2 linked regions of the Homo sapiens genome follow. The protein of the gene in region 1 interacts with the protein of each later gene in a pairwise test. Each region holds a gene or a part of one and is shown on either strand. Other genes may lie near its edges.

Evidence for each region. The genes of interacting proteins can lie anywhere in the genome.
Region 2: the proteins of TMEM114 (region 1) and EMP1 interact in binary tests that used the Homo sapiens proteins (3 or more experiments, as listed by UniProt).

Annotation. Positions count from the first base shown.
Region 1 is NC_000016.10:8,584,012-8,587,511, reverse strand, and holds part of TMEM114 (transmembrane protein 114), read left to right. Parts: intron 1-3,500.
Region 2 is NC_000012.12:13,210,226-13,213,725, reverse strand, and holds part of EMP1 (epithelial membrane protein 1), read right to left. Parts: intron 2,258-3,500; 5' UTR 2,216-2,257; coding exon 2,138-2,215; intron 248-2,137; coding exon 151-247; intron 46-150; coding exon 1-45.

The DNA of each region.
Region 1 (3,500 bases):
TCCACCTGGAATCTCCCTGCTTTTATCCCACCAACTTGACTTGGCTAACTGCTAAGTGCAAATTGTATGACTTTTTTGTGGGGTGGGGTTTAAATCTGACTCCCTCATTAGATTGAAAGCTCCATGGGGACAAGGACCATGTCTATCTTGCCACTGCTGAATTCCCAATATTTAGCATAGAACCTGGCACATAGTAGCCCATGAGTCAAAGTTTGCTGAACAAACATGTTAGTGAATGCAAATTATATTATATTGTAGGTGGAGCTCAATATATGTATTTATTGTATGAATATATGGGTTTATGGTGAACCAGAACTGTTTCTCTAAAGTCCAGAGGCATGCTGGGAAATATTGAACAACTGGATCTCTGCAAAATTAAAAGAAAAAAAAAAGCCCTGGTTTGTAGCATTTGCCTATTTCTGTGGTGCAAATACTTCCACCATGGCCAATTTCAAGACACCAACATGATGTTACCTGGCTCACAAAATTCTCAAAAGCTTAACTGGCTCTTGTGAGTTGATATGAGTCAGCTCCAGCACACCACTGAGTTAAGTTCCACCAAAGGAGACATACCCTAGACACCTGGAATGTGTGGGAGTTGAGGAAAGGTGGAGGTACCGTGTGCTCTGTTCTGAGCCCCAAACTGCACAAGGGGAAACTGTGAGTGTCTTTGAAGCACTGTTTCAAGAATTATAAGAATTCGGCCAGGCGTGGTGGCTCATGTCTGTAATCCCAGCACTTTGGGAGGCTGAGGCAGGCAGATCACCTGAGGTCAGGAGTTTGAGACCAGCCTGGCCAACATGGTGAAACCCCATCTCTACTAAAAATACAAAAATTAGCCCGGTGTGGTGCCACCTGCCTGTAGTCCCAGCTACTCAGGAGGCTGAGTTATGAGAATCGCTTGAACCTGGGAGGCAGAGGTTGCAGTGAGCTGAGATTGCACCACTGCACTCCAGTCTGGGCAACAGAGTGAGACTCTCTCAAAAAAAAAACAAAAAAAAAGAATGATAAGAATTCCGGTCATGGAAGTGAGGGAGATGAGGGTCATGTCCCAGGTAAAACCCCTACAAAACAGAGGCCTTCTGTGATCCTGGGATAGGTGTCTTAACCTCTCTGAGCCTCAATGTTCACATCCGTCAAAATGAGATGTGGACACCATCAAGGGATATGGTTAGACTTCCATGAGAGGGAATAAAAATGGATAAACAAAACGGACCTTGCCTAGGACCAGTCATAAAGGAATGACCAGACTTGTCAGAAAGGAATGACTTGACATCGAGTTTCCAGACATATGGTAAGTGCTCAGTAAGCATGAGCTCTCCCTTTGCCCCTCCTTCCAGCCTCCTTCTAGAGGTAGTAACATCAATGGAGTGCTGATCCTTTGCCAAGCTGGGTGTGCACATTCAGCTGACTTATCACATCCATGGGTCAATTGGATGGCTAACCACAATAGGCACTGGGCTGGCTTCCTCTTCAATCTTGACAGTGCAACAACCATGCTTGTTTCAGGATTTTGAGACAGAGCAGAACTCACATCCACAGTCTATTCACTCGTTCACCCTCAGTCCTAGGGCTAACCCGCAGTTTCACCACCAAGTAGGCATGTGGCCATGGGCCTTTCCTTATTTCCTTATACCTCTCTGAGCCTCAGTTCCCTCCTGTGCAAAATGAGGATAATTGTCATCTCTTTTTGTAAGGTTATTGTGAGGCTAAAACAGGACAGTGTATTTAAAGAGCCTAATGTGGTGTCTGGCCTCCGGAAGTGTGCTGTAAGTGGTAGCTGCTATTATTCCCATTATATCCTCCATGAAAAAGGACAAGCTGCCCCTTCATACCATGTACTCCTTGCAAATCACCCCCAGAAAGAGCTTTTTTTTTTTTCTCCGCATAATGTCTTTTTCTTCCAAAATGAATTTTGAGTTTGGTCCAAGCTCTTCTATTATATGAAGATGTTTCATTCCTTTAAGGACCTGCTGCAGAGGCCATAGAGGAGAAGCTAGCTGACAAGCAGCACGTTCGACAAGCAGCATGTTCTCTAAGTTCAGCCTCCTAGATAAATCCTGGTGGGGGTGTATGGGAAGAAACCTTGATTTTTCCTCTAAGAAAACCCTCACAGAGAGACCACTTCAGTGCCAAGTAATTTACTGTAATCACCTGGCAGATGGAGGACTGTTAGGGAAGTCCCATGATCTAACTTGCCTCCTGATGTGATTTGGCTGTGCCCCCACCCAAATGTCATCTTGAATTGTAGCTTCCTTAATTCCCATGTGTTGTGGGAGGGATCTGGTGGGAGGTAATTGAATCATTGGGGCAGGTCTTTCCCATACTGTTCTTGTGATAGTGAACAAGTCTCCTGAGATCTGATGGTTTTATAAAGGGGGTTCCCCTGCACAAACCCTCCTGCCTGCCGCCATGTAAGACGTGACTTTGCTCCTCATTCACCTTCAGCCAGGATTGTGAGGCCTCCCCAGCCATGTGGAACTGTGAGTCCATTAAACCTCTTTCCTTTATAAATTACCCAGTCTCAGGTGTGTCTTTTTCTTTTTCTTTTCTTTTCTTCTTCTTCTTCTTTTTTTTTTTTTTTTTTTTGAGACGGCGTTTCACTCTTGTAGCCCAGGCTGGAGTGCAATGGCGCGATCTCGGCTCACTGCAACCTCCGCCTCCTGGATTTAAGCAATTCTTCTGCCTCAGTCTCCCAAGTAGCTGGGATTACAGATGCCCACCATCACACCCGGCTAATTTTTGTATTTTTAGTAGAGATGGGGTTTCACCACGTTGGCCAGGCTGATCTCAAACTCCTGACCTCAGGTGATCTGCCTGCCTCGGCCTCCCAAAGTGCTGGGATTACAGGGTGGGCCATTACGCCCAGCCAGGTATGTCTTTATTAGCAGCATGAAAACAGACTAACACACCTCCTTAATTCTGCTTAGCTACCTTGGGAGAGTGGAGTTGAGCAGACATATCAGGTCCTTAAACAGGTACATCCCAATAACCTCCACTCTTTCAGCCACAGAGAGAAGTTTTCAATGAAACAGGTTCCTTGTCAGCAAAATCCACTTTGCTGAAGTGTTTCATCTTCCAGGTTAGCTCTGGGGAAGTCGTGGGTTTGTTTCTTGGGCTAGGGACTGGAATTATTTTTGGTGGAAAGGAGGTCTTCAAATTCAGCACAGTGTAGATTAAAGAGCTATGGTCTAGAATGATCCAGTCTAGCTGTATCAGCCAGGAACTTTTTGGTGGCAAGTGACAGAAACTCAAATCTTACTGGCTTCAATAAAAAAAGAAATCACTGGTTCATGTAACTGAAAAGCTCATGTCTGCTGGAATCCACTGTTAAACTCAATTTCTTTCCTCTTCTTTTTGGGCTTTGCTTTCTTCTGTTTGGGTTCTGCTTTCAGCTAAATCCTCTCCCACCTTAGCAACCCTAAAAAGGGAGACGTTCTGTTTCTCATGAATTCCACCAAACTTGCAGCTAGGTTTTCCACTGGACCACATTGGGTGAC
Region 2 (3,500 bases), on another chromosome or scaffold:
AGATGATAGAGAGAATCATGAAGGCCTGCACTGTCTTGAGGGCATCTGTAGACACAGGACGAGGAGAACAAGGGCATGAGGTCACTCCAGGGGCTGAACATTCCCTGACCACACCTATTGTCAGCACTGGGTCAATATCTTTATATATACCTTCACTGGCATATGACAGGCTGTCACTGCAGCTAATGTTGGTACAGTTTTTCCAAAGACCTACTGATGCATCTACCGTATTGGAAACCAACCAGACCTGAAACCAGAAGGAAAGAAAATGTTAATTGAAAGCTGGCCCTCTGATTTAAAAATAAAATAACAAATCAGCTTGCATCGGGATCAGATTTTAATAAAGACATTCTATTTAGCTATAACTATGGCTATGCAGCTTATCTGTGGGCGGAAATAAGGTCCGATTAAAACTGAAGTTCACAAAGTTGCCAAGAGAAGAGACACAGAAGAATGTGAAACCCAGAAAGAAATCACCTAGCCCTCTTTGGGCTCCACATTCTTCACGACTTAACAAAAATGGAAGTAACTCAACCACAGTGGTTTAAAATTCTAAGGTTCTGAGAAACAGAAGTCCAGGATGAGGAAACTGGCTTAGGTATGTGCAGTTCATATACTCTAACAAGATTGTTTCATTTAAGTCCCTGGTTAACCAGGAAAAAAGTGAAATGTCCAACTGGAAACAATTAAGAAACATAAGACCTACTGGGAAAATAACAATGAATCTAGTGGTTAATAAGCCACTTTCATCTAAACAGAAGGATCAAACTTGACTGTCACAACATGCAAAGTAATTTGATAGTAAAATACTACAGCAAGTGCTTTCCTGTAGGGGCTACTAAAAGCTGAAGGGTGACCTGAATGGATTCCCCCAGACTGATCATGGTGCCGCCATCCCTTCCTGCCTGGCCCAAGAAAAGGAATTATCCTTCTGGAAGAGAAAACAAGTGCAGTGTCCTGTCTACACACACACAAATGCACACACTGGAAAGGTGGGGCCGGGAACATGCATCACCTACGCCAATCCCTGCTCTTCATTCAATAAACAACTGTGTGCCTAGCCTTATATTAGGGGCTGGTAATTCACAGATACGCAGCGCTTTGGCGCTCATTAATACACTTTGAAGAAGCTTATCAGATTTATCTGGATAGATATAGGAGTTGACATATAGAATGGCTAAATTACAAAACAAGGAGGTCACGTGGGCGGGGGTTGTCTTATCACAGTTATTCTTAATTAGCCTTGCTTATGATCACACCCACTAATGTTTGCAAAGCTCTTCTATCTGAACTTTAAAACTCACTTATACTTTAACTGTGATAGGGACCTAAACAGATTCTGAAACCATGGTTTGCCTGCCTAGTGATTGGTGGCCTTGGTTTTTAGGTCCAAGGAGCTGGCTTTTTTCTGAGAAAAGCACAAGTAAAAGCAAATTGGGCGCTGTAAGCCACCACTAGAGGTCAGAGTAGCCCAGGGTTCAGAGAGAAAAGACACTACCTCCATTTTTTTTTTCTCGTTTTGTCTGAGTTAGTTAATTCAGTGGCACTGGGTTAATCTTGCAAAACTCCACTTTCACATGCTACTCTTTGCTCAAAATTTGAATTTGTCAGTCTGGCATCCTCTTCTTCCCATCTATCCTTCTAATCAAGCTTCTCAGAAGGAGGGGAAGTTCGGCTCCAGCCACATAGGTGTGTGTCCTCCTTATCCTCTGACCAAAGCTTGTCCTTCCTACATATGCTCCTTTGCTAGCACTCCCACCTGAATGCATCCCTATGATCCTTCCACCTTCCCTCTTTCACTAAGAGAAACCTCAGCCATCTACCACTCCTCCAGGTTCACCTCAAGCTCCACTCACCCCTGCTGCTGGGAAGGCTCTTCTAGAGACCGAAGAAGCTGCACTAGATCCTCCAGCCCTTAACCACCTACAGCTCTGGCAGGATTACTCCTGTGGACATTCACTTTTATCCTCCTGTTATTTAATTGTTTGAAGGGCAAGCGTGTGTTTATTTTGTTTTCCCACAACTGAGCTGTAAGTTCATGAAGGGCAAGGGCTGTGGCTTAAACTTCTTTTGTGCACTTGATGTAAATATTCGAATGATTTCTCAATGAATGAATGAACAAAAGAACATTACTCACATTGGCAATGGTGCTAACAAATAGCATAATAACAGTAGCGATGTGGACCACAAAGATACCAGCCAGCAATACCAACATGTTGGCTCTTTTTTTTTTGGTAACTTGTGAGCAAAGAGAGTTCTGAAAAGAAAAAGAAAGGGACAAAAACGGTTACTGTCAGATTCAATAAGACGACTCAGCTTTCCCACACGTGTGGGCTATCTGCTAACATGAGGAAGAGCTGCACTAAAAACCATCACAATCTAATCATAAATTCCTGAAAACACCCCTGTAACCTAGTTCTGATTTGCCTAAGTGCCTATTCATCCAGTTATACATACCTACATGGAAACAGAATTTGGTTTCTTCTTGGGTATTTACATATTCATTTCTCTAATACATTCTATTTCAAAAAAGGAACAAGAACATTTTATGATAACTGTTCGTATTTTATTTTGTTTGTGTTTTAGAGGTTAAAAATAGGACTTTGATTTTCAAAGAAGTAGGCCTTTATAATTTCCAGGTCTCTGAACAATGTCATATAAATGTCCATTTTCCACTAGGAAAATGTCCATGCTTTCATCAAATTGCTCACCCAGCACTTTTAATAGAAGTAAATGCCTTCTGAAGAATAGCAGCTATTACTCAATGCCCATATACTGAATAGGCTACTAATATGATCCTGGGCGAGATATAAAATGTGAGAGGCACAATTCTATTATTATAATGCTGTTTGGTTTTCAATAATTATAACAACCTAATTACAGTTTAATGGTCTGGTCACCCTGTGACTGAGCATTTCAGACTAGTATTACTACACCTGAGCCTTTGGGCTCTGTGTGCCTCATGGCAGGAAGCCTGCCATTGGTCTGGGCAGAGAGTCATATTTTCCACAGCTCAATGTGATGGTTCTGGGGGCTTTAAAAGTAATGCAACTTGAGATAGCACCAAATGTGCCTTCTCCTTGTACATGACATTTACACAAATTCCAATCCTTCAGGACTCAATACAGAAGACAGGCAAATGCATAAATCACAGGGTGGGAGGATTGGGAACTAATATCGATTAAGAATGTGCATGGATAAACAAAAGCTTTCAGCCATAATCACAGCAGAGAAGGGAGCCCATTGATCATAAAGCCTAGGAAATAAAGGAAGTGTGAAGGATACACATGGGGGAGGCTATTCTGATTTATGTCAGCTACAGAAGGAGAGCTTTGTCATGCCTAAGACTGTCACAAAGCAGTGCAGGCTCAGAGGGACATCAAAAGGAAAGGGCTTGAGGTTATTCACACCCTAGACAGAATGGATGTGTGGATGCCCCAACCAAGGGAGGAGATGGCCAGGCGCATCCTGCAATTGTTCCACTGCCCTCTCTCACTCCA